Linked DNA regions of Homo sapiens: regions 1, 2, 3, 5 and 6 are each reported to be linked to region 4. The links are microRNA targets in miRTarBase. Many come from high-throughput screens and were not tested one by one. Region 4 holds a microRNA gene; each other region holds the end of a gene's coding sequence.

Region 1 (5,063 bases), not on the chromosome of region 4:
TTTACCAAAGCGATCTGGAGCCATTCATCAGGATAAGTACACACTAGTATAGGAGATACCCAAACTTTTCAAACATTGTTAAATATGAGGTCTGAGCTAATACTGACACCAGGAAAACCTAAATCTGCCATGATTCTTTGGTAAGAATGGGACTTCCATCGGACAAGTGAAACATGGAGACTCCTAGGCTTGAGTCTTTTATACTCTGGAACTGTTTTTCTAGTTCTTTGTTGTATAAATGGAATAAACATTCTAAGCACCTGGTAGAACCTTCCTGTGGCTTTGAAACTTTTGTAACAGCTCGTTACATTTATAGGCCTGTGCATTTTACTCTCTCTATGTCGTGATCCTGATGGTAAATGTACACAATGATATGAGACCATGAAAGCAGTAGGTCAGCTGGCCACAGGCAGGTACATTGAGATTAAAAAAACTGCTGGACATGGTGGCACTTGCCTATAGTTCCAATTACTCAGGAGGGTGAGATGGGAGGATCACTTGAACCCAAGAGTTTGCGTCCAGCCTGGACAACATAGCAAGACTCTATCTCTTAAAAAAATAAAAACAGTCCAGGCACGGTGGCTCATGCCTGTAATCCCAGCACTTTGGGAGGCTGAGATGGGCAGATCATGAGGTCAGGAGCTCGAGACCATCCTGGCTAACATGGTGAAACCCCATCTCTACTAAAAATACAAAAAAATTAGCCAGGTGTGGTGGTGGGCACCTGTAGTCCCAGCTGCTAGGGAGGCTGAAGCAGGAGAATGGCATGAACCTGGGAGGCGGAGCTTGCAGTGAGCTGAGACCATGCCACTGCACTCCAGCATGGGTGACAGAGTGACACTCTGTCTCAAAAAATAAATAAATAAATGAATGAATAAATAAATAAAAAGACCGGGCACGGTGGCTCACACCTATAATCTCAGCACTTTGGAAGGCTGAGGCAGGTGGATTGCTTGAGGTGAAGAGCTCAAGACCAGCCTGACCAACATGGTAAAACACTGTCTCTACTAAAAATATAAAAATTAGCTGGGTGTGGTGGCATGCACCTGTAGTCCCAGTTACTCGGGAGGCTGAGGCAGGAGAATCACTGGAACCCAGGAGGTGGAGGTTATAGTGAGCCGAGATCATGCCACTGCACTCCAGGCTGGGTGACAAAGTGAGACTCCATCTCGAAAAAAATAATAAATGAATAAATAAATAAATAAATAAAAATAAAAAGAGGGCAGTGTGGTGGCTCATACTTGTAATCCCAGCACTTTGAGAGGCCAGAGTGAGAGGATCACTTGAGGCCAGAAGTTTAAGACCAACCCAGGTCACATAGTGAAACCCCATCCCTACAAAATAATTTTAAAAGATATTAACTAGGCATGGTAGTAAGTGCCTGTAGCCCCAGCTACTGGGGAGGCTGAAACAGGGGAATCACTTGAGCCCAGGAGTTCAGGGCTGCAGTGAGCAATGATCACGCCACTGCATTCCAGCCTGGGTGACAGAGCAAGACCCTGTCTCTAAAAAAAAAAAAAGAAGGAGGATATGGTGAATGAAAACATCTAAAGGGCAATTACAAGTTTGTTGGGTGGGAAAGAAAAAAGATACTGAGACAGAGGGTATAGTGTGGACCAAGGCACAGAGGTATGAAAATTCATGGATATTCTGTGAAGAATAAGAGCTAGCATTCTTTACAGATCATCTCTTTGTTTTTTTTGTTTTTTTTTTTTTTTTAAACAGCCTCATACTGTTGCCCAAAGTGGCACAATCAGAGCTCATTGCAGCCTCACCTCCTGGGCTCAGGTGATCCTCCCACCTCAGCCACCTGAGTAGTTGGAACTACAGATGTGCACCACCACGCCTGGCTACTTTTCTTTCTTTTTGTAGAGACATCTTGCTATGTTGCCCAGGCTAGTCTTGAACTCCTGGACTCAAGTGATCCTCCTGCTTCAGCTTCCCAAAGTGCTGGGATTACAGGCATAAGCCACCATGCCTGGCCTGAACATCTCCACAATAAATGTTTTCCACATACAGTTCTTCTTCATAGAACGTGTCTCTCAATACAATGCTTTCCCACCAATATTTATATTGTAAAAATATTTATGTCCCCTAAACATAAGAAATTCTTTAACCAAGTGATGAGGGGAGTCAATGGACAAAGTCTTTAGGTTTATTCCACATATGATTAGTAGCAAATCAGCGTTCACAGAAGACAATCGGAAAGGCTCTGAATGTTAACTAAGGGGACGTGCAGCATGTTATACAGACAAAGCAACCATTATATTAACTGCTGAGTGATCAGGAAGTACTGTTTTAAATATCTTATATCCTTATTTTACTACAATTAAATAAATAAATACAAAATATTTTGTTTAAATTTTTACACCCTAATGTGTTTTTTCCTTATATACAGGCATTTTACTATGTTTTATGTTTTAAGAAGTTGGTTGAAGATTTTGGGTTGAGACATAATGCATTAAAATTTTTCGCACTTAAAATAATGGGAATGAGGCACCTGGTTAATGTTTTCTTGCCAAGGTTGTTACATGGATGATGCCTGTATTTCTGTATGTCAGGGGTCAGAGGGGGCAGAGGTCGACCTTGAATGACCTGTGAAGGAGCCTGGACTTCAGATGGTAGTGAGTCAGAGGTTTCTATGCACAGCAGTGACACGTGGACATGTGTGTGTGTTGTCAACAGGCTTGACATGAGTTCGAATCAAGTTTTATTTCAGTTAGTTGCAAACAGCCCTGATTGTTTTTAGCTTCTCTGGGACCTGGCAGATTGGTGAGGGCTCATTATTGGGGATTTAGATGTGATATTCCAGTCTTAAGTCCTTATTAACTATATTAGACCCTGATAAGAAAGAGGGGAAAGGAGCTTTTTTGAGAGGATATAAGTGTACAAGGGAAAGGATTTTGTCTGTTTTATTCACTGTTGAATCCTAGCCCCTAGAATAGTCCTGGAGTATACTGGAACTCAGTATCTGCCTAATTGAATCAAGTTGAGATTCAGTCTTTTTGCAAGTTGAGTTTCCTGTTTCCTGTCTCCTGTCTGTCTAGAGTGGTCAGCACCGTGCTGTCCTCATCCATCTTGCTCCCTCACTAGCTCTGCTCCTGATCCTGGGGCTTGGTGCATGCACAAGTTGGGGACCTGGTCCACGGTCCTGACCACCATGCCTGGGTGTGTGCTGGAAGGAAAACACGTCTTCTTCCTCGGAAGGAGTTCCATTCTCCTGCCTGGGAATCTGTGTCCGACTGCTCTGACCCTTCTCCCATGCCCAGAAAGAGCAGGAGCAATTGCTTCACACAGCAGTGGAGCCCAACACTGCAGCAATCCATGCAGATAAAGCCCAGGATAGGAGTACTGGCCTCTAAGGACCTCCAGCACAGGCCCACAGCTGCATCCCACACCCAGCAGAGAGCCTGTGATCAATACAGATTTGTTGAATGAAAGAAAGAGAGAATGGAGGGTCTCTCCTTTGGGTCTATATCAGTTTTAAAATATTTTAAAGAGCATATTTTCTGGATCCTTGAGAAGTTTTCTCAAACAGAAGAATCTCTAGTGATGCTACTGATAGCCATAAGCAGGCAGAATGGAGTGTTGTGCGGCCTGGTGCTGCCCTGCCCCCGGGAATACGGAACTCAGTCTTTCTAATGGGACTGCCCTACCAGTGTCTCTCTGTTCCTTTTGTTATGGTGCAGGGTCAGGTGGGGTAAGAACCCCTGCAGGCCTTGGCAGAGAGGGTTTCTGGCTTCCTCTCTATACTGGCAATGAGATTGATCTGCCAAATTCTTCTCACAGGCTGGGCAGGAACCTAGTTACAGGTTCCCACACTGCCCTTCTTCCAGGGGACGCCTTACAACTCATTTTAGTTCTACAATCAGTCTTGGAAAGCACATTCATTCATTTATTCCCTACCATTTACCCTGCACCATCCCAGGTTCTGGATATACTGTAGAGAGAAAACCAGGTTCACCTCCTGCCTGTGTCCCTGCTCCCCACATCCCCACTAAGTCCTGCTAGATCACTTCCACCTCTGGTGTGCCTTGCAACCTTGAGACTTCTCCAGAGAAATGGGGATGCTCAGCCACATGTGCTCAGACCCTTCCTCCAAACTGGGCATGTACTCAATGGACTGTGCTAACTTCAATTGCTAAGACAGAGGCCAGCAGCAAATTGAACAGTTGTCTATTTTTGTTTTATTAGAACACAACATAACATTAAATAAATACTAATTTACCAAATTCTTAACCATTTCATAAATACTATTAAGTTAACAGACATTTTACAGAATGTTAAGTTAAATAAGAAAAAAGTATATCAATTTTGCCTGGAGGAAAATACTTCAATGATTCTGATATCTGAAATATATTTTAAGAATTTTATGCTTTCTGGCAAAGTGTCAGTATGCCTGAAATATTTACTTTCCCTCTGAAGTTAAATTATACTGAAAATTAAGGCCTGACTCTTTCTTGGCCCTCATTCTCACTGCAGTAAAATGTCCTTCTCCTCCAAAATCTTTGGCTGCAACAAACCAGTTTAGTCTCAACTTTCTATTATCCACTCGGTGTTCATTACACCAAGAAACTCTTGCAGGTAGTCTAGGAATTGGTTTACTCTCCGTCTTTCTTCTCCACACTTTTTCTGTGAAAAAAGAAAAATGACAATAGGTATTACAGGAAACTGTCAATTCCATAGAAATAGGCACAGCCAGACAAATATAGCTTCCATTGAATGTGTGTAACTTACTTTTTGGCCGTCAATGTATTTCTTTATTAAGGACAAGTTTTTGAATAGTCTTTCCACAGTACCCCCTTGCACAGTTTGACTCTCCAGTGTGCCTATTCCCTGAAAGATTTCTTCAGTGCACAGTTGGTGCTAAATGAGGAAAATTTTTAAAATGCAAATAATCAAGACAAGGTATAAAAATTTGGTCCATTGTCCATTCTGCAATGTATACATACTTCAAAACATCATATTGTACACAATAAATATATATACTTTTTAATTCATCAATTAAAAAATAATTATTAAAACAATTTTGGTCCACAAAGTTAGGCTTTGTTTTGTGGTAT
Region 2 (5,066 bases), not on the chromosome of region 4:
CTTGTGACGAGCAGAGCAAGAGCTGGAACTTGAATCTGAATCACATGGCCAAGGCTAGGATTCCAGGCTCCTGGCGCCTAACAAGTTAAAGAAAATACATTCTCCCCTAGGGCTGGGAATGATGAGAAAGGCTTATGGAAAATCTGTATCTGGGCTGGGCACAGTGACTCACACCTGTGATCCCAGCACTTTGGGGAGGGTGAGGTGGGTGGATCACCTGAGGTCAGGAGTTCAAGACCAGCCTGGCCAACATGGGGCAACCCTGTCTCTACTAAAAATACAAAAATTAACTGGGCATGTTGGCGGGTGCCTGTAATCCCAGCTACTCAGGAGGCCGAGGCAGGAGAATTGCTTGAACCTGGGAGGTGGAGGTTGCGGTGAGCTGAGATTACACCACTGCACTCCAGCCTGGGTGACAGAGCGAGACTCTGTCTCAAAAAAATTAAAATAAAATAAGAAAAAAGAAAATCTTCATCTGCAAATAGGTAGTTGTAATTTTCGCTCTTTCTAAATCCAGCTACCTTCTTTGTCCTTCACAGATGACCAGGATGCAGAGGTACTGTCGGGTGAGCCCAGCCAGCCATCGTCTCAGGAGCAGTCCGACTAGGCCCCAGGCCCGCCCTCCTGGCCAGCAGAGTGGGGCACTGGGGGGCAACAGCAACAGTTTTCTTGTCTTCATTCAGTGATATGTAGGGAGGAAGGAGGTTGATAGCATAGATGGCAACTGATTCCCAGTTTAAGATAGGAGGAAGGAGAGCAATTTCTAAGTTTCAATCCTGCGCTGTACAGTTGAAGAAGAGTGTGGAGGAAGCTATTACCAGGGGAGGGCCAGGGCTCTGAGGAGTGGGCGCTGGGAGAAGCTCCCATTTAGGAATGAATTTAACTGTCCTTGGGTTACACTACCATTTATTGGAACAAGCCCCAGAGGCAGTATTTGATTTCCTCAGGCCCCACTCTAGGACAGGAGGCACCATCTATTTCAGCCTTCTGCTGCCTTTGCCTGGTCCTCCAGGTTGCTGGGGGCACCACAGACATCAAGATTCCAGTTCATCCAGGTGGCTGGAGCCAGCAGCCAGGACCAGGGTCGTTGACAGCAGGTTCTGCAGCATCCTGCCTTGCTGCTCTGTCCCCCACATCTTCCTGGCCACAGCCCCTTGCCCCTCCTCTAAGGGGTTTTACTAGCAAGCATCCTGGCTGCTGGGGCTACTTCATTCCCCCTCCATAAAGTTTCAGCCATTATGGGCACTGGTTTTAAAAAATTTATTAGTTTGACTATTTGATGTTTTTATAGTGATTGCCAACTTTAAAAAGTAGGCTGTTCATAAGCACTGATGCAGTCCCTAGGGAATAGAATGGTGCTTCTGATCACCTGTGACATGAACAGTTTCTTCTGTGAGGACAGTTGGCTATTGAAATAAAATGAGCAATGGAAATCCTTGTGGAAGGCTTATTCTCCCTTTGATCCTGGTGGAAGGTAGGGTTGGCAGGAGCCTGAGTTGGGGAGATTGGGGGCCTTGGTTTGTGGCCTGTGGCTGGCCTTGTCTGCACTTGCTTAGTTCCTATTTTTAGTTCCTGCCCTCCCTGTTCTACCTCCCCTTTCTTTATCAAGTGAGGGGATTGGGCCAGGCTAGTAGACTTCTTTATTATTACTGTTGTTATTTTAAGCAATGGAGACCTTTTAAGGAAATCTGATGTAGACACACAAAATGTAAAGATGTCTTAGTTTCCTTCCTCCAGCTCCTTCCATAGTCCCTGCATAGGAACATGCATTTAAAAAAACAGAACTTGAACCAATTCTGTTTTAGGGTCCTCGGCTTCTTCCATTGGTTGCATTTATACCTTCATTTAGAAAACATCCTGTGTTTCTACTAGATTCAGAACTTGACAGTTCCCAGCTCTGCCCATGAGGAACATGACATCTAGTGGGAGAGACAGAGAGTCTTAGGGGATTCATACTAGAACAGAGAGGTAGGGAGGCTGTGGGAGTGGTCAGAGAAAGCCTTCTGCAGGAGTCAGGGCCTCAACCACAACATAAGGGGCAATAATGAGTTAGGCAGAGAAGAAAGAGATGAGTACTCCCAGTAAGGATGCAGAGGAGGATGGGGACCTGGTGTGAAGGATTCCATGGTCAGGGCAGTGTCCTGTTCTCTGTCCAGGGAAGGGCTGGCACCCAAGAGAACAGGTCAACTTTACTTCCTTTTTTGCCTGTGGGCAGAGGTGTCCAGGCATCCTCCTAAGTCCTGGGATAGGTAGTGGGGGGATCATTGAGAAGTGATACCCTAACTATTCTCTTACGTCAGTGTGGTGGCTGGGGCCTAGGGCCTGGGCTTTGTTGGAAGGCACTGGAGGCAGGCACTGTCACAAGAACTTTTCAGTTACTGCTATACAGACATAAGAGTGTTTTCAGCAGGGCAGACCACGCATGCTGAGGCCTGAGGTCTGCAGGTCAGCACTGGTGTCAGCCTGGACAGGATGATGCGGTGATTTGGGACTACCCTGGCTTGGGGGCTGAAGCTATCACTTACCCCAGTGCTGGTCTTCCCCTTGGGGACCACAGTGCTGCAGGACCCTGAGAGGGTGGGAGAAGACATGCCTTTTGGTTGCACTTGACATCAATCACCATGCCCTAACTGAACCCCTGACCTGCCAGTACAGCAGGGTGGGGCTGGATTGGTAACCTTACTTTTTCTTTTTCTTTTTTTCTTTTTTTTTTTTGAGACGGAGTCTCGCCCTGTCGCCCAGGCTGGAGTGCAGTGGTGCGATCTCGGCTCACTGCAAGCTCCGCCTCCCGGATTCACGCCATTCTCCTGCTTCAGCCTCCTGAGTAGCTGGGACTATAGGCGCCCACCACCACGTCCGGCTAATTTTTATTTTATTTATTTATTTTTTTGTATTTTTAGTAGAGACAGGGTTTCACCATGTTAGCCAGGATGGTCTCGATCTCTTGACCTTGTGATCTGCCCGCCTCGGCCTCCGAAAGTGTTGGGATTACAGGCGTGAGCCACCGCACCTGGCTGGTAACCTTACTTTTTCATAACACTTGAAGTTTTATCTTAGACTCCACATTTTGAAAGATTTTCCAACCAAGTTGCACTACTCAAATAAAGCTGCTTTCCTGTTTCTGGTCAGCACACACGCAGAAGTATGAAACAGTCTCTGTGGCCACATGGACACCACAACTATTCCAGACCAATGCAAGGAAATGGGTTGTTTAGTTAGCCTGTGGGGAGATAGGAGGCTTTGGTCTTTGGAGAAGAGTAATGTCCTGTTGGAGGGGTTGATGCTCACACGACTCCAGGATGGGAGGATTTCTCATTTCCCCTGTAGGCCTGTGAGCTGATGAATCTCCAGAAATTGGTCGGCATCTTTCCTGGAGCCTTGGAGGCACCTGCTGGGGTGAAAAGACCAACTGGGGGTCAGGGGCTTGTCCCAGTGCTGCCCCCTGGCTTACTGGTTTTCAGGAAGGCCTGCCTTCCTACCTTTCCCCGGTATGAACCCCAAGTTGTGAGCACCCAGCCTGCCCTTTCCTGCCCCTGTGGGCTCACTGCGGTTACTTCCCCTGGTAGGTGGTAGACCCCTGCTCCCCGCAGCTTTGCCAGGCAGCCCAAGCCATGATCCCTGAATGCCCAGCTCCTCCAGGCAGGCCTCCAGCAGCAACAGCATGAGCACTGAAAAACCAGTTCTGCTCATGTTGCTGCTCTGCATACAAGCCCTCCGTGGCTCCTTCCTGCTCCCTCTGGCCGGACACGGTGGCTCACGCCTGTAATCCCAGCACTTTGGGAGGCCGAGGTGGGCGGATCACTTGAGGTCAGGAGATCGAGACCAGCCTAGCCAACATGACAAGACCCCATCTCTACTAAAAATACAAAAATTAGCCGGACATGGTGGCTCACACCTGTAATCCCAGCTACTCGGGAGGCTGAGGCAGGAGAATCGCTTGAACCTGGGAGGTGGAGATTGCGGTGAGCTGTGATCACACCACTGCACTCCAGCCTGGGTGACAGAGCAAGACCTCATCTCAAAAATAATAATAATAATAAGGACCTGCCTGCTGGCCTCTCCAGCCTCTCCCTCACTGGCTGGCCCAGCCCAGTTCCTGGAGGGCTTGGGGTCGTCCAGGTCCAGGCAGAAAAAGGATGGAAAGCCGAGAGACTGGCCGCCAGGGGCAGCACTCTTCATCCCAGATGGCCGGGATAATGTTCTGGAAGGCAACCAGCCGTCATTCCCTGACCCCGGTGCCCTGGCAGGGCGCCGCCGGGAGAGGGCGCGACGGCAGCAGTTGCGGGCGGGGCCGGGGCCTGTTGCCTAGGGACCGGCCTCCCACTAGGAGCATGTGGGCCGGTCGCTGCGCCTCTGCTCGCCGGGCTGGAGGAATAGGTTTCTGCAGCGGCGGGCTTGGAGCGCACCCCGGAGACTAGGAATTTCCCTCTAGTTTAGGCTATGCAATCGCCAACTTCAGCGAGTTGTCTTTGCGCAGCCCTGCCTGTGACATCCATGCCCTCCTAACTTTTCTTTAGACACCACCCCCATCCTCGTGTTCCATAGCACATTCGCCCGCTTTCTTTCCTTTCCGCACTTTTGCGCGTGGACAGTCCTCTGCCTAGACTCCTTCCAGCTTCACCTAGTCATCTATTGTCCTTTCAGACTTAGTTCCGGCGCCGGCTTCTTCAGGACACCGGGCCTCAGCCTCAGCGTGGGTTAGGAGCTCGTGGGGCCTGCCCTGCCCGCTGCTGCCTTCCGTCAAGGCCGCTGACCCCACTGAGTAGATGCCCCTCCCACAGGCCCGGGAACGTCCTGCAGGCAGTGGCAAGGGCTCTTAAGCCTCTGTCCCCAACTTCCAATGTGGGGCTTGGCCCTGGTTAGCCCAGTGCATGTTGCCAATGGATGCGTGAATCCAGGGCATGTGTGGTTTTCCGGGTGGAGGGTTCAGTTGGCCCAGCCTTTGGCCACCTACTGCGGTATCTTTTGCCTTACATTTTTGCTCTGTTTGCTGGGACATTACAGAGGGGTCAGAAAGTCAGCTTTCGTTGAAACTATACTGTGTGCCAAGCCCTGCATTCCTTCCC
Region 3 (5,071 bases), not on the chromosome of region 4:
TCAAAACCCTGGAGTATTTGGTTTGTGTTTAAATGTACTTGACACTCTGGAAACACTCAACCTAAGCCCTGGATGCAGGAGGCAGGGATGCTGAGGATGTGAATTAGAGTGCTGGGATGTGCTAATGCCTAGGGAGGCATCAGGCACTGTGCTGGCTTGGGGGATCCTGTGATGACTGGAACCTGGGCCTTCATTACGGGCTCCGGTTTTGGAGTGCAGAGGGATTGGCATTTGTAAAGACTGCTTGCTTACCCTTTGTCTGGCATGCACATTCAGGATGTGACTTCAGCTTCATTCATCCTGGCCAAACAAAAAAAGTTCAAAAAATTGTTTTCAATTAAATTTCTGAAGATCTTTGTAGGGAAGCACCCTTCTGAGATGAAACCAATTTCTTGTCCACACAGCCACCATATCCTTATATAGATGGGGAAAAATCCAGAAAAGGGGGATTTTCAGCAGCTGGCTTGAAGCCCCTGAATGGTCCCTTGGCAGAGGCAAAGAATGAGCCCAGAGCCTGAGATTCAAGATGCTGGTCTCTTCTGAACACACCGTGGAGCAATGTGGTGCACCTGCAGATGCCGCACTCAGCAGCCTGGAATGCCAGCTCTCATGCCCTCACCTAGAAACGCCTTCTCGGCTGAATGGCTGTTGGCTCTCAGCAGCACCTGTCAGCATAGCTCGGCCGCTTCTGCCCCGTGCCAAGGCGTGACTAGGACCAGAAGAATCAGAAAGCATGGTGGAGTCCGAAAGCATTGGCAAAGCCAGCACATCTGTGAGCATGTTACACATGGGCTTGCCTAAGTATTTCCTTCTCTGTGAACATCACTTAGGAGCTACGTCAGTTAAGGCATCGTGAGACACAGGTGTGGTGGAGGCATTATGAGGGGACTACTCCACAGGACCTTGGAGAGTTGCATTTTGGGGGGCTCTCCTAGAAGCTCTGGGGGAAGGAAGCAGTGGCCTCCTGGTCAGCTACAGACACAGGCGGGTTAGGGCCCGTCTTGCTTTCATGTTCTTTTAAACACAAATGGCAGCTCACAAATATTCCTCTAAATATTCCTCCATACAGCCTAGGGCCCCTCAAGAGACGTGCAAACCAAAGTATTTGTTTTTCTCACTTTATCTTTAACCTAGTATGTGGCAAGTCTGGACCACTGCTTTAGAGAAAGCTGGATTAAATCTCTTGAGCAGAAGTAGAGACCCTAGAGAATCTTCACTGGATACCTTGCTTCACACTTTGGTCAATATTTATGAATAAGTTCTAAAGCCTATGCGAAGCCCATTCTGTTTTGCTTGGGGACCAGCCAGACCACTCCTCCACTCCAGTGGGGCCTTTTTTGTGTCTTTCACATCACTGTTACAAGTTGTGGCTGGACAATTAATGACATTTAAATCACTGTCCCACATATGGATATATTAGAAAAACCCTAATGTTTTAAAATTTTTTTAATCATCAGCTGCTTTTACAAAGCTTTGCATGCATTTGTTTAGAGGATATTGCAGTCGAGATATTCCAGTACTACTGTGTGATCATATGAAAAAAGTTGGTTTTCTCTCTGTCAAAGTCAATAGGGTGGTAGACTAACTCACAGAGTGCCTTACTTCTTCCTCCCGATTAATCGTGTTCACTATATGGTGGCAGAATCAGTCCAGTCCCCCAGACCTCAAGCTGCATCTTCCAAATGGTTGGTGTCTTTTTAAGAGTCCCCGTGGGCTGGCTTTCCTGGAAGAAGTCCATTAAATTCCCTGCTTCTATAAGCTGCAGGAGTCGCCTAGGATATGGCCCGTCACGTCTGGGGATGACCCTGCACTGCTCTCCAGATTTCACTCAAGGTTCGTATTTTTCTCTGCCACCTTGAACTACAGAACAGGCTCTCAGTAGCGTGATAAGCTTTAAGCTAGAATGAGATGGAAAGGTGGGAAAGACAGACAGGAAGTGTAGCTCTTAGTCTATGGGGCTCTCCTTAGGGGACAAAAAGATGGCTTAGGCTCCGTGGGTTTTCAACTCGTAGAAAAAATAACCCTGGGAACCAAAGCAGTTGTTGTGTGCTGAGGAGATGGTGACCTCCGTGTGACCTGAACATGGGTGAAGGTATTTGAGGAGGCGTGATGAGCTTCCGTCCAGGAGTACCCGTGGTTGTCTGTGTCATTAAGGGCGCAGGGTGTAAGGAAACCAGGTTCCCAGGCTGCATAACAAAATTGTTCTTCGTGGACAGGTCAAATGACTGATGAGAAAGAGGTCCAGATCTCTCCCCAGCACGCCACATTCTCTTTCGGCTCTAAGGCAATTCAAAACTTGGCGCTCACTTAGTTATTTCCTAAGAGATTTCTGCCTGCATTCCTCCAGCCTGGAACCCAAGGCCCTAGCAGGCAGGCTGTTTGCTTGCTTGTGTGTTGTGTGATACCAGAGCCAATTCAGAAGAAAATTGAATGTCTGTGGGCCCCCGGATCTATGTTTTTAGAACTTACTTAGATTACTTCTGTGTTGAATGGAAGAATGAAAATGAGAAAAATAACACATTTTTAGTACGACAAGAAAATTTCTGAGCATTTTTGAGAGTAGCAACATAGAGGCAGCTTTCTAGTCTTTCATCCTTGGCTTAGTGCTTTAGGATTCTTAAAGTGTGCTCTTTTACCCTTGACACACCCCAAGAGGTAGATATCGTCACCCCCATTTTGCAGATGGGGAAATGAGTCAGCAAGGAAAAGTGTCTCACCCAAATCCTACAGCCGATGAGCTGCAGAGTTCAGGTGAATGGCGTAACTCAGCATCACGGACCCCTCCGAGAGACTGGCCCGATAATCCAGGCGCAGGTCCACTAGGGCGTGCTCACAGACACGCAAGGCTACACACCATGCACACCTCCACTTCTCCAAGGACCCCTCTTGCCTAAGGTCACGTCCTGGGCTTTTGCCCACAGATCTCTGCACACGGTGCTTCATGCCCTGTGCAGGGTGGGCAGATGTGCTGGGCGCTCCCATCAAGCCTGCCTGCAGGGCCGCCAGCGAGTTAACTCAGGCCCTAGGCTCTGCAGTACGCTCTTCCCACAAGTCAGCCAGGATTTTTTCCCTTTTTCACTTCTGTGGATTCAAATAATTCATTTGTATCAACAAACAAACAATGCATTATTGTCCTGTAAGCAGAGGGAGCTTCTCTAGAGCTGTCTTGTAACTCCTTGGCTTACCTAGTTTGGTTGATAAACAATGACTAAATGAGCAAATAGCCAAAAACATAACTGCATAGAATAGGCCTTATAATGTGTGGCCAGTTTTTGTATAGAGCTGTTCATTCCTTCTCATGTTACCACAGCAACACAGGCAGCTTTTCTCAGCAACTTTCAGCTGCGCACCTGGAGAAAGACATATCCTTCCTAACTCATGCTCCAAATACCTATCGGTCCAAGTGCCATTGGTGTCTTGGCCTAAGATGATTTAATAGCTAGCATTTGTTCTGCAAAAATAGCACTGCTTTTAGTTTCTTCTTCTTTTGCATTTTTGGCACCTGTTGGCTGACAGCAGTCTGCAAAGGCCGCTGGAGATGCTACAGGGCAGAACTATTCCGTGGAGTAAAATGGGAGCAGACAGGAGCCCGGAAGGAAGGCAGAAGCCTGGGGGTTTTTTGTACATGGGATGTCGGCTCTGATTTGACCCTCATCAGAGCAGGACCTGGCTCCTTTAGGGCTGCAGACAAGCTCTACATGCTGGGAAGGGGCGAGGCATTTTATAAAGTGAAACTGCATTTTATCAGGGGTGACTTTGGCTGTCACTGCTGAGAGGAACAGTCGATGCAAGCTCATCTCACAAATCACTGCAGAATGCCCAGGCTGTACGTTCATGATGTTTGTGTTCAATTTCAAGATCCATTTCTTCAGGGAGTTGGGTCCATCTTCAAGACTTACGCCAGGAGACTGCACTGCAGAGACCGAGCGAAACTCTCCCTTGCTGTGTGCCAGGGACACGCTTCGTTGGTCTCCACGCACGTGCTTGCCATCTCTGCTCTCACAAATGCTCACGGGCTCCTGGACCTGTGTCTCCTGCCAGGAGCTGTGCTGGCCTGCCCACCCCTCTCAGCTGCCCACACCTCCGCGGCAGCTGCCTCCCGTGAGTAGGATCTGAAACACCAAAGCCACGGGCAAGGGCAGGATGGAGGGGCAGCGGTCCATGTCAACATACACCACAGATGACCCAGAAAAGCACTTTAATTTTTTTTTCTTGGAGGCATAATTTAGTCATCTCACCTAAAGCACTTTTCACTTTATCTCTGGCAACCAAGGGTTACAGAAAACTCAGCACCAAAGGATGAAAGGGGAACTTGTCCCCTTCGGTCCCCAGCCCTGCCCTCCCCTGCAGCCTAAAATACCCTTTCTATGATCACAGAACAAAGTTCACACTCACCACACAGCCATTCTCACACACACTCGCACAAAAAGAAAACCAAAGCCCACTAAAGCACATGGGGAAAAAAAGATTACAAAACATCTTCCTCCCCATCCGGCCTTGAGACCAGACTCCCTGGCTGGAGAGGTCGTGACTTCCGCCGTGCCCAGCAGGGGCTCACCCAGCCTTTGTCACCGTGTCCCACTAAGGAGGATATGCAGAGGCCACCAGTTCCCCAAGGTTCCCTTCGGATGGTGACACCTCCCTGAGTCAGTCATTCAGTTTCTGCTTGCTGTCAGAGTTGCCGTAGGCAGAGCCCTTGTCAATTTCCGTCACACCAATCATCCATCGAACTCCCACGGAGGCTGCAGAGACAAGGAGAGCAGAGTTAGGAGTAGCCCAAACAGACTACAGGGCCGTTTTCCCACAGAGCAAGTGAGAAGGCCCGTGGCCGCAAATCACAAGCGCCAGCTCAGAGCTGGCTGGCGGGTTTGAGGTGCCATCATCCTGCCGGCTTTACAATCATCCTTGAGTGTGGACATCCATGTGACATTAAGACAAAGCAAGGCTGCTCTGGTGGGGGTTTTCCTCCTTGGACCCTGAAGGTGAATGATTTGGCAAGCCATGCACAGCCGTTCGCAGGGACTCAGAGAAATCCCTGGCTTCCTCTGCTGACCCCCAGGTAAAGAGGATT
Region 4 (5,071 bases):
ACGGCTGCCCCCCAAAATATGCCAAGAGTGAGGCGGGCAGAGGGCATGGGGGGGGTGGCGGGCGGGCTGGGTTTCTGACTGGCCCCGGCTGACCGTGCTCCCCTCTCCCCGCCTACCCCGCCCAGCCTTGTACCTGCTGTACGCACAGCTGGAGGAGGAGTGGGGCCTGGCCCGGCATGCCATGGCCGTGTACGAGCGTGCCACCAGGGCCGTGGAGCCCGCCCAGCAGTATGACATGTTCAACATCTACATCAAGCGGGCGGCCGAGATCTATGGGGTCACCCACACCCGCGGCATCTACCAGAAGGCCATTGAGGTACCCACCGTGGGGGGCTGGGCCGGGGCCAGAGGTCCCTGAGCAGACGGAAGGGGTCCAGGCAGGTGGGAGGGGCTGAGGAGGAGCCTTCTGGAAGCACAGGGATGGCCATGGTGTGTTGGGAGCCCCCGAGCTACCCCGGCCTCACTCCCGGCCTCCCCAACCCCGGTGTCCAGGTGCTGTCGGACGAGCACGCGCGTGAGATGTGCCTGCGGTTTGCAGACATGGAGTGCAAGCTCGGGGAGATTGACCGCGCCCGGGCCATCTACAGCTTCTGCTCCCAGATCTGTGACCCCCGGGTAGGGCTGTGGGGAGGGACGGGTATCAGGGTTGGGGGCTGCGGCGGAGTCAGCCAGCTCACGGGCACACACACCCACCCCTGCCCTGCCCCCCACGCAGACGACCGGCGCGTTCTGGCAGACGTGGAAGGACTTTGAGGTCCGGCATGGCAATGAGGACACCATCAAGGAAATGCTGCGTATCCGGCGCAGCGTGCAGGCCACGTACAACACGCAGGTCAACTTCATGGCCTCGCAGATGCTCAAGGTCTCGGGCAGTGCCACGGGCACCGGTGAGCCGTCCCAGCTGGCTGAGTTCCTGATCCAGGGCATCTCAGCCCGGCCTGACCTGGGCTTTCCGGGTCTGGGAGCCTCGGATCCTGATGGCAATCTCCTTGAGGGCTGGGCCATCACCTGGGGGACTGGGATAGTGCAACGTCCGATGTGTGGGAGGGGCCCCCGTGGCGCTGACCCCCTGCTCCCACCCCCTAGTGTCTGACCTGGCCCCTGGGCAGAGTGGCATGGACGACATGAAGCTGCTGGAACAGCGGGCAGAGCAGCTGGCGGCTGAGGCGGAGCGTGACCAGCCCTTGCGCGCCCAGAGCAAGATCCTGTTCGTGAGGTGAGGGCGGATCCTTGGACGGGACAGGACTGGGACAGGTCCCAAGGGGGCCCGGGGTGGGGAACTGAGGCAGCATGGCCCGTCCCTAGGAGTGACGCCTCCCGGGAGGAGCTGGCAGAGCTGGCACAGCAGGTCAACCCCGAGGAGATCCAGCTGGGCGAGGACGAGGACGAGGACGAGATGGACCTGGAGCCCAACGGTGAGGGCCCGGCTGGGGCGGGGACGGTGGCATTACCAGGGTGGGCCTCGGGGGACAGGCCAACGCCAGGAGGGTGACTGGCTCCCGCCTTCCCCACAGAGGTTCGGCTGGAGCAGCAGAGCGTGCCAGCCGCAGTGTTTGGGAGCCTGAAGGAAGACTGACCCGTCCCTCCCCCATCCCCCCTCCCCACCCCCTCCCCAATACAGCTACGTTTGTACATCATGGTCTGAGCCTCCTTCCTGCTGCCCAGGTGCCCGAGGGAGTACAGCTCAGGAGTGCCTGGCCCTGGGCCGGGATTGGCTGCTGTGGGAGGTGGGGCGGCTGGGCCCCAGGCCAGATACTGCCCGGCCTCACCCCGCAGAGCCAGTTCTGGACTCGAGAGGCCAGTCCCTCCGCTGCCTGGGGCCTTGGAGTGGGTCCTGCCCGGAAACTTCCTTGAGCCTCTGTAGCCTGGGAAGGGCAATCCAGCCCCTGGCTGCCCAGGTCTCGCCAGCCCCTGCCTCTCAGAGCCCTTCTGTGGCCCCAGGCAGCTGCCGCCTCCCTGGGGTGGCACCCACTGTCTGTTCCCCACTAGGGACTGGCCCTTGCCCTCAAGTCTTGGAGTCAGGCAGGCTCTGGCCCAGCTCTGGGAACTGATTAGTAACGCGTTTCTGTGCCTGGACGGGGGCCAGGCGCCAGACCTTGTGCACGGCCCAGGACCAGGGCGTGGTCCTTAGTCCTAAGCCTGGGAAGCCATTAGCGGGCTGTAGGCTATTAAGGGGTTTTAAGTATCAAGGGATATAATCAGATTTGTGCTTCGAACGGGTCACACAGGCTGCTGTGTGGGCAGGAGGCAGCTGGGGACATGGGGAGGCCCAGGCCATTGGCTTGGACTTTGCAGGGAGGTGACAGGGCTGGAGAGAAGCGAGTGAGACAGGAGGGGAGGGCTGAGCTGTGTAGAACTGGGCGGCAGCTGGGAAGCCAGTGCCAGCCTGGGTTGCAGGGCAGGCCTTGCATCTGAGAGAGACACCCAGGCAATGGCAGGGGGCAACTGGATTGTCAAACACAGATCTCAGAGAAACCTGGAATCACTGGCCCAGAGGTAGATGCCAGGCCTGGAAACACCAGGCTGGCCAGGGGAGACAAGATCAAGTTAGAAGTTGGCCCCATGCCAAACGCTGGTTAGGGCCAGTAACAACAGCCACACAGACCAGGAGAATCCAGCAAGCGGGGGTGGCCAAGGCCACAGGAAGGGCCAGTGGGACACCTCGAGCCTGAGAGATCAGTTCAGAGGCAGCTTCGAAACAGCCCTGGCTGGGGGCTGGGAGTGCCCTGGCTGAAGCTGCATTAGGGGATTATGGGGGTTGAAGACAGGAGTTGGTTTGAGAAAGAACAGGAGACTAAAAACACAGCCAGGGAGTGTGGGACCCCGGCCAGCCTCGGAGGGGGGGACAAGGTTCAACTTCTCTTTAAATTATTTTATTCAAGAAGTGGGGGAGGACAGACAAGGGGACTGAGCTGAGCCCTGAGTCCCTGAACCTCCCAGCTCAGCCCCCACAGCAGGACTGGACTCAAAGTCAGAGGGTGGAGACTCCAGCCCCACCCAGACACGGTTGGGGACAGACAGGACCCAGGAATACCGACTGACTGTCCTCCAGGGGATGGCGGCCGCAGCACACAGGGCCCGGCCCGTGGACCGCCCGGGTGGGGCTATTTGGGGGTGCCGCCGCCCTTCTTGGGAGTGGTGGGTTTCTTGCCCTGCCAGAGGTGTCCCTGGATGGTGAAGGCATCGACGCTCATGGACATGGTCTTGGCGGGGATCTGGGTGAAGCGCTTGCGGTCCGAGTTGTACTTGTAGATGCCTTCCACCATGGCGGGCGTGACGGTCCGGGGCCCATACCCTGCCAGCCGCGACAGCTCCTCTGTCTCCCCCGACAGCGTGTAGAGCGCCCGGAACTGGCAGCTCGAGTCGCGAAAGAGGATCAGGAAGTGGTTGGCCTTGCTTTTCTCAATTTCCTGGGCAGGAGTGCTGGAAATGGTCAGCTGGCCAAGTCAGGCCACCCACCCACCCACCAGCCCCCAACTCCCACGTGTGGGCGGGCTCACCTCCAGAATGCGATTCTTCTGCGGTTCGTTCACCTTGCCCGCCAGGCAGCAGTGTGATAGGGCATTGTGGATGATGAACTTGTTGGACTTGGCGCTGGGTTCTTTGTACAGCCGTGGACCTAGAGGGTGAGGCAGTGGGAGGGGGTGGGGGGCAGCAGGAATGAGCAGGGGCTGTGGAGGAGGGTGCCTGTTGCTCCTCACATCACCCAGAGCCCCTGCTTACCTGTGTACTCGGGCACTGACGCTGGGGAGGAGGCATTGCTGCCATTTTCCCAGTCCCGTTCGCGGCTTCCAGGCAGGCGGCTTGGGGACATGAGACCTGACGGGGAGGGAGCCCTGCAGTGGGAGAAGGATGGGATGGAGGTGGGGTCAGGATGGGATGGAGGTGGGGTCAGAGATGGGAAGCTTCCCTATGTGCAGAGGGGCCAAGGAAAATAAGGGCCACGGCTGGGCATCGTGGCTCATGCCTGTAATCCCAGCACTTCGGGAGGCCAAAGCGGGCAGATCACTTGAGGTCGGGAGTTCGAGGCCAGCCTGGCCAACATGGTGAAACACCGTCTCTACAGGCACGGGTAACCCCAGCTACTCAGGAGGCTGAGGCACGAGAATCACTTGCACCCAGGGGGCGGAGGTTGCCGTGAGCCAAGATTGCGCCACTGCACTCCAGCCTGGGCGACACAGCAAGACTCCCTCTCAAAAAAACAAAAAAAAAAAAAAAAAAAAAAAAGGCGGGCCACACACACTGCAGAGGAGGCGGTATACACTGCACACCCTCCCAAGTCCATGCAGTGCCCCGTGCTGTCCTCCTCCCACAGGAACACCTGGCACTCAAGTGCACTGAGGCACATGCTTGAGTCCTGTCTGCCAGGTACAGACTATGCCCCATGCACACGTGCCCACACGCGTCCCTCCATCTCTTCATGGCGTATCCATAAACTCGAGCCATACCGCCCTCTAGGTTCACCCAGATGCCCACACACCTCCCAGGCTCTGGGAAGCCACCCGGCATACGAACCCCGCCTGTGCGGGCTAAACTCACCGAGACGTGGGCCTCTTCACCCCGAGGTTATTGTGGGCCTCGTTGGCCACAGTGGACAGTGACAGGGTGGACTGGGAATAGATTTTGCTCAGCCGAGAGCCTGGGGACAGAGATTGCAGGTCAGTGCCCACCAGAAGCCCCTGCCCTCCACAACACCCGGTCCAGCAGGCTGTGGGGGGAACACAGGAGGAGTCAGTCCTGCCCAAGACCCCTCGGCCCTCTGCAGCACCCCTATGGGGGGACCCCTCTATGAGGGAGGATGCTTTGCCCAGCAGGCAAGTGGGGAGCAGCACTGGGTCAGCCCCTACTGGCAACGCCTCACCCCAAACATACTCCCAAAGGTTCCTATCCATGAAGCCACAGAAGAAAGACCCCTCATCCCACTGCACCCCACATCCCTATGGAAGTCTTTTTTTTTTTTTTTTGTCTTATTTCTGAGACGGAGTCTCGCTCTGTTGCCCAGGCTGGAGTACAGTGGTGCAATCTTGGCTCACCGCAACCTCCACCTCCCAGGCTCAAGCGATTCTCCTGC
Region 5 (5,071 bases), not on the chromosome of region 4:
TCTCCAAGAGGCTCCCCAGCAGAGACCTGTGGTCCCACCCCGCAGACCACCTCCCCCAAAGAAAACCTCTTCGTCATCCAGGCCGCTCCCAGAGGTCAGAGGTCCACAGTGTGAAGGCCACGAAAGCAGGGCAGCTCCCACCCCAGGCCGTGCTCTCCTCGTCCCTCCAAAAGCCAAACCTTTTCTCTCCAACTCTTTGGGGGGCCAGGATGACACGCGAGGCAAAGGCAGCCTGGGGCCATGGGGGACCGGCAAGATTGGAGAAAACAGGGAGAAAGCAGCTGCAGCCTCTGTCCCCAATGCCGACGGCCTGAAGGACTCTTTGTATGTGGCCGTGGCCGACTTTGAAGGAGACAAAGACACCAGCAGCTTCCAGGAAGGGACAGTGTTTGAAGTCCGGGAGAAGAACAGCAGTGGCTGGTGGTTCTGCCAGGTCCTGAGCGGAGCCCCTTCCTGGGAAGGGTGGATTCCTTCCAACTATCTCAGAAAGAAGCCGTAGCCGACTCCCTTTCTGCCTAGAGGGCCCGCTGGTCCTTGCTGGCTTTACCCACGTATTTAATACGCCTCTTAATTTATCATTCTCCACGCAGCTTCCAAGGCAGACAGACTCTGGGGTACTGTGACTTCTTGCCTCCCATGGGTGGAGAGTGAGTTTCGGACACCTCGGGCGCCCCTGGGCCTGATCCCTCCTATCACAGCATCACTGGAGGCTCAGAACCCACAGCCTTTGCTTTCTGTCCATGTCAGCATCCCTGCCTTAAGAGAACTCCTCCTGGCCAATGGCATTGCCACCCAGCAGTGGGACCAAGACTCTCCAAGACCTCCAGGACTGGATCCCATTGCCTGGAGAAACTCCAGCAAGGGTCTCTCATGGCTTGGACATGGCACAGTAAGGGGCAGCCAACCCAGTCCATGATGACTTTTGCTCCAACTTCTTCATGTTTCTAAAAGCCCAGTGGCTTTATTCACTCCTCCTAAATTGCCTGCTACCAGAAGGAACTTCATCCTGAAGAAATGCATTCCATTACCAGTTCCAGGGAAAGTGTCCCCTTCCCCAAAGCCTCAGGCCCGTGGGCCTCTGAGGTTCCACTGGATGCGGCTCCCCCAGGAGTGGGCCTGGAGATCCGCTCAGCCGCCCTGCCTCCCACCTTCTATCTTGGGACCGTGGTCAGCCCTGAAGGGTGGTTCCAGCCCCGCGTATGCTGCGCTTTGCTGCTGCAGGCTCCGGTCCCTCCAGGGCTTTTCAATGAGAGTTCCCACCCCAACTTGGAGCATTTCATTTTTGCCTACCTAAAGCAAGAATCTCAAAGTTTGTTTGAATAAGAGGCCCATTCACAAGTCGTGCCCTTGTGAGCACCCCTTTGCTGAGTGCCTCGTGGGTGCCAAACACTGTACTTGGCGCTTTGCATTCATGCTTTGACCCTCACAACCTCCCTTTATAGATGAGGAAATTCACGCTCCATGTGCCCAAGGACACACCAGCCAGGAGGAAGAGGGAAGAGGATTTGAGTCCAGGCCTGCCTGACTTCAGTGCCTGTGCCCTCCCCTCTGTAAAAGACAAACCAGGCAGGGAAGAGATAGAAGCTGGCTAAGTGGTGGCCAAGTGGCTTCATTGTGAGGGGGGTGAGGGGGCATTCGTGGCTGCTCCCACACCCACCATCCCTCCAGCCCACAGCAGCCTATACCAAAGGCTGCCCTGGACTCAACAGCTGCATCTCCATGACAGGAGAATGCCAGGGTCCTGGTGGTTGACACAGAGCCCTGTTCCCTCTTCTAAGCTGTTGCCCCCTGGGGAATAGAGCTTATGGAGCAACGGGAGCTGAGGTGGCCTCGAGGGCCAGCCTGGAGGGCTCTGAGCATAGCATGCAGCGGTCCCATAGGGAGGCAGGTAACCAAGGGCCAGGCAGAGCTGCTTCCTGTGCCTCTCCGGCATTTGTAATGTTTTTTTCTTTTTTCACGCACTGCCAAATCTGTTTTCTCCCTTGAAGAAACCCAGGGCAGATGTGGTCATCTGTCAAACTGAGGTCTGGAGAGGCATGACTAAATCACTGCAGAAGCAAAATCAGGACCCAGCATTTCTAGCTCCCAGCCCAGAGTAAGAGAGCAGAGCAGAACCCCTTCCCATTCTACCCGACCGAGGCAGCCCTGCCCTGCCCTGCCCCGCCCCTCCCCACCCTGCCCTGCCCCAGAGATCTCCAGTTCACAGTGTTCATCAGGCGAGATACTTTTGGACCCACAAAGCCAGTTTTTTGGGGGGATGCTCAGTGTCTACCTGCAGTGCCAAAGTTTTGCTTGAACAGCCCTCTTCTGCCGCGCCTCCCAGCTCCACCCCCTATCACGTGGGTGCTGGCTGCTTCTGCGTGAGGAGCTTCCTCTGATCACCTGTAGCATCTTTAGTGCCTTCGTCCAGTCGGCCTGCAAATCCCATTTCCCAGAGAGGCTTGGGCAGGGCCCACTTGCCACTTGGCCCTGTGCCCAGAGCGTTGGGGGCAGATGGCAGCCAGGGGAAGAAGGGAGGTGGGGAAGGGCCGCCACCGCTTGAGGGTCCCCTCCCTTGAGAGGAGGCCCCATGGCAGTTTTCCTGAGTTCTTGATCCACTTTGGTTTAAACAACTTTTGTGAAGCTATGTGAGATTTGACTGCATTTCAAAAGACAAAACACATGTTTTTTTCTGATTTGCTCTTTGCCTTTCAGCGACGCTTTCAGATACTTTGTGAGTGTCTACTCTGTGCTAGGTGCTGAGTAGACTGGGATGTGTGTGGCTCCATCCCTGGCTGGAAGAGCTTTGAGTCCTGTCTGCTGACTTCACTGAAGGAGTTTCTCTCTTGCTTCATTCCTTCCTCCCGGGGGTCAGCTGGGTAGGAGCAGACTTGCCCTGCCTTCCTCTAGGCAGAAAGTTTTCCTGCAAATGAAAGAATCTGCCATTCTCTTTTGCTATGATGATGATGATTATTCTGACATGACCCGCGGGTACTGAAGCCACAGTCCTCTCTGTTCACTGTTCTCTCCTTGAGTCATATCTATGGCCTGAGGACGTCTGTATCCAGCTCCTTTTCCTACAATGGTAGACACTTCCCCAGGCAGTGGGTGGGTCAGGGTGGCCAGTCACTCTCCTAGCTGTCCTTGCCTGGGGACTTAGATTTACCCCATCCAGGACTGTGGTCGCTATTCTGTGAGCGATTGATGGCGCATATGCAGAACTCCCCTGGAGTCATGGCTCTAGAAAGTGTCCAGGCCCATCGTGACAATGGTGCCAAGCACCGGGCTGGTGACCAGTGCCTAAACACACACGCTCCTTTAATCCTTACGGCAAGCCTGTGAGGCGGATAGGACCAGCCCTGATCTATAGTGAGAAAATTAAGGTTCAGAGGGAGAAGGTCCAAATAGTGGCCAAGCTGGGACTGAGATCTCGAGTTTGGGTTTGTTTGGTTTTGTTGTTGTTGTTCTTTCCCTCGTGTCCATGACTTTTCTCTGCCATTAGCAGGGAAGTGTGCGGAGGGCTTCCAGGGAATCAAGTGACCCTCCCTCTGAATTTCGGTGCCTCTTCCCCCCGCCCCTTGCTCACACATTTCAGTAGGTCACAGGCCAAATGGCAGCCCAAAAGGTGGGCAGAGATTTTTTTTTCTTCCCCTCACCCCTGCTTATTAACACAATTGTGACAACTACTTTACCTTACATCCCAGGGCAAACGGACAGCTTGCGGTACCTCCAAAAATTTGGAAAACCCTGAGTCTAAGACCACCTCTTGATAAAAGAGGCCTTTGCTCACATGTTCTGCTCGGAATCTTTCTTTGCCATTGGTGGGTGTATGTCGTCCCAGCTGAGACTGCGGGAGAGCTGAGCTCCAGCTTAAACCGCTTTTAATGGCCCTTCCCTACTGGGGGATCGCTGGAGCCCATGCCAGGTTACGGTAGTCATTTTAAACCTCTGCCACAAGGCCACGCCATAGAATCAATTTCCAAGTCAATGTTCTTGGCCCTAAAATGTTTGCGCCCACTGAGGATTTCATTACCAGGTGGAAGATGGGGGAACATATGCCACGTTAAAGAGCAAGTGCTGAGTGTGCCAGGACTTGAGAAGGACCTTAGGCTGAGGAGTGGACAGTCTGGTATTTATTTCGCCTCTCCCAAGTACCCAGCACAGAGTGGGAAAAAGAAGAAACTGCTCCTGCCTTCCAGTAGCTGGCAACTTGACATCAAGAACAAAAACATTCGTAGCTGGACCCCCGTCCTTTCATCGTGCCCAAGTCTTACATGTTGGCTTAAGCTGCCCCCTTGGAGGCCGTACCTTTCTCTTTGGACTGTGACAGTGGACACCTAACAGCCTGAGCCATGTGTGGCTGTCTTATCCCCCAAGGGTTGTCCAGGCCCGTTCTGCAGGGCTGTTGTGTAGACTGCAGACATCCATACCTCACCACAGACCAAAGATGACCTCGTGTCAGACTGTGGGCTGATGAGAGGTAGAGCAGCATGCATCGAGGCCTGAGGGTGCAGGGCGCCCTCTCTTGGCCTGGAGGAATTGCTCCTAACTAGAGTAAGTTTCCACGAGGGTCCCAGGCAGAGCTGCAGAGCTGGAACCGGAGGCTCCACAGTCCTTGCCTGCTCATGGACCTCCTTCAGAGCACCTTTCTACAGACTGGACTGCCCAGCTCCGTGGGGTGGCATCTGGTTTCTGGTGCTATTCTGCCAAGTTATCGAGCTCCTCCTCATGTTTCAACATTCCATCTTCCCGTTTCTATCCTCGACTCCAAAGTAAGCCTTCTTAGCTCCAATCAGGGATGAGGGGCTCAACCTCTTCTGTCCTCAAAGAGGCCAAACGCAGTGCCACAGTCGGTAGCCTTCACTTTTAGATGTCCTATTCATGTAAAAAAGAAGGTGCCCCCACCAGGCTTACATCAGCAATAAGCAATTCTAATGCAACGATGGTGTCCACATTTTACCCCAGTGTGTGCCCATGTATGCCTTTGTGCCCGTGTAATTATTGTTAGCGCCCCTTTCACTTAGAGGGGTGATGATAAACTGTGGCCACCTTGATTACAACCCACATTTCCTGCTTTGGGGAGCTTCCAAGT
Region 6 (5,065 bases), not on the chromosome of region 4:
AATCTCCTTGCTATAGCTATTAGCTTGATGATATTATTTTCAGCTGCACTGCTTAAGCTCAAAATTTGAAATCTGCAAATGTGCTATCTTTCTAAGTTCAATTTTACCATTGTAGATCATGATGTCATAGCAATTTCCTGAGTACCCATTTTCAGATTCATCATCACATTGGTGACATTGTGGAAAAACAGCCTAGGATCTCTCGAGAACAACTAACTGATCCCTCTCCTTCCCTACCCTCGTCCCAGGCCCCTACCATTGATATCCGCCCAAGATCAGCAACCATTCAAATGAATAATGCTACACACCTTCAAGAGAGAGATGAAGAGTACGGCTATGAGTGTCTGGACGGCAAGGACTGTGCCAGTTTTTTCTGCTGTTTTGAAGATTGTCGAACAGGAGCTTGGAGACATGGGAGGATACATATCCGCATTGCCAAAATGGACTCCTATGCTCGGATCTTCTTCCCCACTGCCTTCTGCCTGTTTAATCTGGTCTATTGGGTCTCCTACCTCTACCTGTGAGGAGGTATGGGTTTTACTGATATGGTTCTTATTCACTGAGTCTCATGGAGAGATGTCTGTTCTAAGTCCACTTAAATAATCCTCTATGTGGTTGATAATGATCTGAATCTGTTTCTATGTCCAAACCTGGTAAATTTTATAATGTCATATTGTTTGTGCCCAGCCCTCCTTTGGTTAGTGTACTTTGAACTTCGATGTTTGCTGTGTTTCAAACCTGCAAGGCAAAGTAAAATTAGAGCAAGAACATTCAAACCAAATAAGATATTTTTCAGCTACAGCAAATAAAACAGTGAAAGCCCTGACTATTTACAGTAGTGGTATCCTTACTAGATTCATAATGCAATTAGATAGAAAAGGTCCAAAACTGTACCCTATGTTCACTCCGGGTCAAGTTGTGATAAATTTGATCCCAATAGAATACCTCCCTCATTTAAGAAAAATCATAACTCACTTTAAATATGAAAGCCTAGTCCAGAAATCTATTACACCTTTATCTCAAGATAGGAAGAAAATTTCCTCCACATTCATGTACAATGATGTAAATATTTCAATAACTTAGAATGCTTCAAGTTTAGTGCATGCATCTCTTTAGATCCAAAATAAATGGACTGAAGTTATCATCCTATTGTCTTTTATTTTGTGTCCTTGGGCTATAAAAGATTCCTGAATGTAATTATAAGGATTTGGGTTTGGAAATGGAGGGAGGAATTTTCATTGCCTTCTCCCTCATGCATGAAGATTCGAACAGCTTATTTTTTCCTTGTATGACATATTACAACACTTTAAGTAAAATATAGACTGGATAATCAACATTTGCCACCTCTAAATATGCCCAATTTCATAACTAGAGTATAAAGTAATTGTATGTGCTTGCCGCTATTTTTTTCTTCCTTTTAGGATGATAGATCATAACAGAACTTATTCTCCATCTCAAGATCTGCTTCTAGTGATTGTGAGTGCCTTGTGGGCAGAATCCTTGTCATTTCCTCTTTGGGTCTGTAGCACCTTGCATAGTGCCTGGCATATAGTTGGTGCTCAATAAATATGGTTTGAAGTGAATTGCCCTCACATGCTTCTGGCAAATCTCTGTGCTGGCCTGAAACCAGTGACTCATCTTCTCACATAGGTGTTGTCAAGTGATATTTGATTTTGTAAAAATAACCAGTAGGATCCAAAGAACTTTAGCTATTTATGTTCATCTTCAAAAAATTATTTTAGGCAAAGTCCATACTCCTTTTAAAACAATATTTATGTCCTATGTTTGTGTATAGACATGACTCTACTAGGGCATAATTAGAGTTTGTGTATTATTTTTCCAGGTTTGGGGATGAGTCAGTCCTTGCCCATCCACAATTTTGTTTGTGAACTTATAACAGGAATAAGCAAAATTCATACCTGACTAGTGTTCAGAATGTAGCATTCTGTGCGAAAAAGTATTGAAGATTAGCTTTTAAAAACTGAAAAAAAAAAATGAATGACTCACATAGAGGTTGAGCCAATGACTGTGGCCTCATTAGATTACATTGTAGTTAAACAAAGCAATTTCTCCAGACTTAAAACATGATGAGTTGAGCTCTATCTTCATGTACTCATCCTGAATCCTTATTTTTCTAAAATAGCACCCTTTGTTAATTATTTTTATGGAAATTATTACTCTGTCATAATTAAATCATAGCTAGTATAACTTTACAGATAACCTAAAAAGAATAGAAAAGAAGAGAGAGTGGCTTTGTCAGTATAAAACCATGTAAAGTCATCATCAAGTCATCTGGATGAATCTTGAAACACATTTAGCTGCCAGTTTTACAAACCTTTAATATATCAGTGCTCCAGTATATAACCTCAAACAAATGTAAATAGAACGAATTATTTTCTTGTTTTGAATTGTCAATATATTAAATGTTGACTCTTTGGGAGAGTTGTTGGCAAGTTTCAATGGTGAGAAACATTATTGTCAACTTGAAATGTGTTCTGTAATGGGGACACTACAAAAAGCTAGCTTTCCAATGTGTGCATAGTATTGGCAATATGAATATATATTATATATAATCTAATACTTATTATAAGCTGCTCCCTGTCTATGTATTTGGAAACCTTTTCACAAAGGGAATTGCCTAACATGTGGACTTTTACAATAAAAATGCTGCATTCTAATCCATGGTGGCATCTCAGTAGTCTGGTGGGACTGTTTGTCTTAGAGATTGTGACCTCTCTTTCCTGCCTCATTTCCCCAAATCCCCTCTCAGTGAGCTTTATCTGTGAGCTGTGTGACTGTGTTTTGCATGGCGGTACTCTTCACCTCAAAAAAATTAAGAGAGGCATGTGGGTTGTAGAGTGAAGAAGAAAGGCAGACATGTAATAAAGTAAGTAAAAATTCAAGTCTTCTCTACCTCAAGAATTTCGGTGTGGTTAACATTAATTCCAGTGCCAGACAAAGTTGGGATCCCAGCTTTACTATTTACCAGTTGTTAGACAATTGTCAATTCAGACTTTAGAATCCTCCATTAAAAATAATTTATGTATTTGTTTATTTGTTTAGAGATGGGGTGTCCCTCTGTCACTCAGTCTGAAGTATAGTGGCACAGTCATAGCTCACTGAAGCCTCAAACTTCTGAGCTAAAGCATTCCTCCTGCCTCAGCCTCCTGAATAGCTGGAACTACAGATGCATGCCACCATGCCCAGCTAGAAGTCTCCATTTTAGCAGCTATAAATTAGATATACCAATGCTAACCTATGTAGTGACACTCAACAAATGGTCAAAAGCTCTCTCCCTCACTTCCGATGCCTTCCATGCACTGCTGTCATGCTCCCTTCATCCTATCAAACTAGCTTCCCTAATAGAATCCAGCATTAGGCATATAAGCCTTTAAGTGACTCTACATCACTCTATTTTTATTTTTAGGAAATATTTGCATTGCAAGTCTTTTAAACTATATGTGGGAAATTTCTGTCTCATTGGAAAAAAACTTACACATTACATTAGTTATTTTTAAGGCCAAAGAACTGTTATTTGTACCCTCAAAATTTACAAACATACAAAGTTGATTAGCCCTACTCCAGAGACAATGTCATGTTTTCTTGAACTCTTTTGAAATTCTCCCAGGAATATAATATTATCTTCACAACACAGCTGCCCTAACCATCCTTGGCCCCATTCTCTTGGCCCCTCATATCTTCCTGCATCTAATTTAATCATCTATTTCTCACCTTCCAAACCTATAAAAATATAGTTTTCACTTAGATGTTGTCTGCTGTCTAACTCAATGCCCTGAACTTTAGCTGAATTCATATCTTTATATGGCCTTCATTCCTTGCATTAAGTCTCAATATTATTCTGACTAGTAGCAAAAATTTTTGTCTGCAATGAAGGTCAAATTAAGTTAACAAAATGATGTGGTCTTCAGGGATTATGTCAAAAATTGCTATCTCTATGCTTTGTCACTATGAATCTTTGTCAAAGGTGTAGAATATGGGGGAATGACGTAGACCAAGAGCTCGGCTATGTTTTCTAGTGCTCAGTGAACTGCCAAAGGTCACACAGCTAGTTAATGACAGATCAGGGGGTCATCTAAGCATTGCTCTTTCCACTGTGTCTCACAGTATTTCAGAATTTAGAAGTAAAATTCTGGAATACTTTATCTTTCTGTTAATATTTTAGGATCTGCCAAACTGCAGGATGCTTTCCTTCTTTGATCTAAGCCTCACTTTGACTCATTTTATTGCAATGAGACAGGAATTTGAGAATACCTAGTAACAGAGGGAAGTCAATGGGTTTTGTATTTATTTTATTCCTTCTCATGTGAAATGACCAATTGATATTTAATATTACCCATACTGCTTTCAGAATGCTGTTTCAAAGAAACATCTAAACAACTCCAGACCTAGAGTTAGCCTTTGTCCTTTGGGATATGTGGCAGTAGACAACCAAAAAGTTTCCATGGCTAGGATCTGCAGGCTCATTCTTTCTACTATTTAAGCAAAGTGGTGGGGAATGACCTAACTATTATGATTCTTTCTAAGGTTACAGATTATAAGCCAATTGCAAAATCCAGTTGTAACTTTCTTTTGCCACATTTTGGATAATAAAGAAATAGTTTCCTCTAATTATGGTTTGTGTAACTAATTGGAAAAGCAGAGGCTCTTGCTCCAGATTAACTAGGTTCAAATATCAGCCCTGTCAACTTTTGTCTGCCTTAGTTTTCTCACCTGAAAAATGGAGATAATATTGGTGTGTATCTCAGACTTTATTATAAGGAGAAACTTAGTTAATACCAAAGAATTACTGGATGCTAGTAATTTTCCTCAGTAAGGATATAAAGTTTCAGAAAATACAGGGTACAAGAACCATATCTACTTTGCTTAAAAATATTGATCATCATTTGTGAGGACTCTCTTTTCTCATAAAAAAAAAAGTCACTGGACCGGGGATAGAAATTTCATTTAACATCTGGGGATTTCCAAATATTCCTATCTTGATGATATTCAGTTTCTTACGTAAACAAGGGAATTTGGCCCCTTTTTCTCCAGCAGATTTTTATTC

Evidence for each region. Region 4 holds the annotated microRNA hsa-miR-6792-3p (CUCCUCCACAGCCCCUGCUCAU, at 3,661-3,682, opposite strand). A microRNA usually pairs through its seed, bases 2 to 8, with sites in the 3' UTR of a target mRNA and lowers its output. Matches are read on the target gene's strand: a 7mer-m8 pairs with bases 2 to 8, a 7mer-A1 pairs with bases 2 to 7 and ends in A, and an 8mer does both.
Region 1: the mRNA of IL5 is a reported target of hsa-miR-6792-3p. Seed matches in the 3' UTR shown: 7mer-m8 at 4,496-4,502.
Region 2: the mRNA of DMRTB1 is a reported target of hsa-miR-6792-3p. Seed matches in the 3' UTR shown: 7mer-A1 at 694-700, 7mer-A1 at 745-751 and 8mer at 803-810.
Region 3: the mRNA of AGPAT4 is a reported target of hsa-miR-6792-3p. Seed matches in the 3' UTR shown: 7mer-A1 at 4,481-4,487, 8mer at 2,339-2,346, 7mer-A1 at 1,606-1,612, 7mer-m8 at 1,314-1,320 and 8mer at 1,057-1,064.
Region 5: miRTarBase lists SH3PXD2B as a target of hsa-miR-6792-3p. Seed matches in the 3' UTR shown: 7mer-A1 at 1,486-1,492 and 8mer at 4,511-4,518.
Region 6: miRTarBase lists GABRG2 as a target of hsa-miR-6792-3p. Seed matches in the 3' UTR shown: 7mer-A1 at 1,226-1,232.

Annotation. Positions count from the first base shown.
Region 1 is chr5:132,537,278-132,542,340 of GRCh38, forward strand. It overlaps IL5 (interleukin 5), which reads right to left. Exons shown (of 4, transcript NM_000879.3): 3 at 4,738-4,866; 4 at 4,168-4,632. The coding sequence ends at 4,534. Among named protein-coding and RNA genes, the nearest start is that of IL5, 3.7 kb to the right of the region's middle.
Region 2 is chr1:53,466,056-53,471,121 of GRCh38, forward strand. DMRTB1 (DMRT like family B with proline rich C-terminal 1) reads left to right here. Exons shown (of 4, transcript NM_033067.3): 4 at 540-1,433. The coding sequence ends at 607. Among named protein-coding and RNA genes, the nearest start is that of DMRTB1, 9.2 kb to the left of the region's middle. RefSeq lists enhancers at 3,109-3,648, 3,649-4,186.
Region 3 is chr6:161,131,893-161,136,963 of GRCh38, forward strand. AGPAT4 (1-acylglycerol-3-phosphate O-acyltransferase 4) reads right to left here. Exons shown (of 9, transcript NM_020133.3): 9 at 1-4,742. The coding sequence ends at 4,648. Among named protein-coding and RNA genes, the nearest start is that of AGPAT4-IT1, 28 kb to the right of the region's middle. RefSeq lists a silencer at 1-279.
Region 4 is chr19:7,616,091-7,621,161 of GRCh38, reverse strand. MIR6792 (microRNA 6792) reads right to left here and starts at 3,723; the gene lies at 3,657-3,723. It overlaps CAMSAP3 (calmodulin regulated spectrin associated protein family member 3), which reads right to left. Exons shown (of 17, transcript NM_020902.2): 14 at 4,540-4,639; 15 at 3,724-3,836; 16 at 3,501-3,619; 17 at 2,858-3,410. The coding sequence ends at 3,105. It overlaps XAB2 (XPA binding protein 2), which reads left to right. Exons shown (of 19, transcript NM_020196.3): 13 at 1-27; 14 at 126-316; 15 at 493-615; 16 at 716-887; 17 at 1,087-1,216; 18 at 1,306-1,415; 19 at 1,515-1,637. The coding sequence ends at 1,576.
Region 5 is chr5:172,333,797-172,338,867 of GRCh38, reverse strand. SH3PXD2B (SH3 and PX domains 2B) reads left to right here. Exons shown (of 13, transcript NM_001017995.3): 13 at 1-5,071. The coding sequence ends at 499. Among named protein-coding and RNA genes, the nearest start is that of UBTD2, 53 kb to the right of the region's middle. RefSeq lists an enhancer at 2,110-2,971.
Region 6 is chr5:162,152,845-162,157,909 of GRCh38, forward strand. GABRG2 (gamma-aminobutyric acid type A receptor subunit gamma2) reads left to right here. Exons shown (of 10, transcript NM_198904.4): 10 at 249-2,682. The coding sequence ends at 524. Among named protein-coding and RNA genes, the nearest start is that of GABRG2, 88 kb to the left of the region's middle.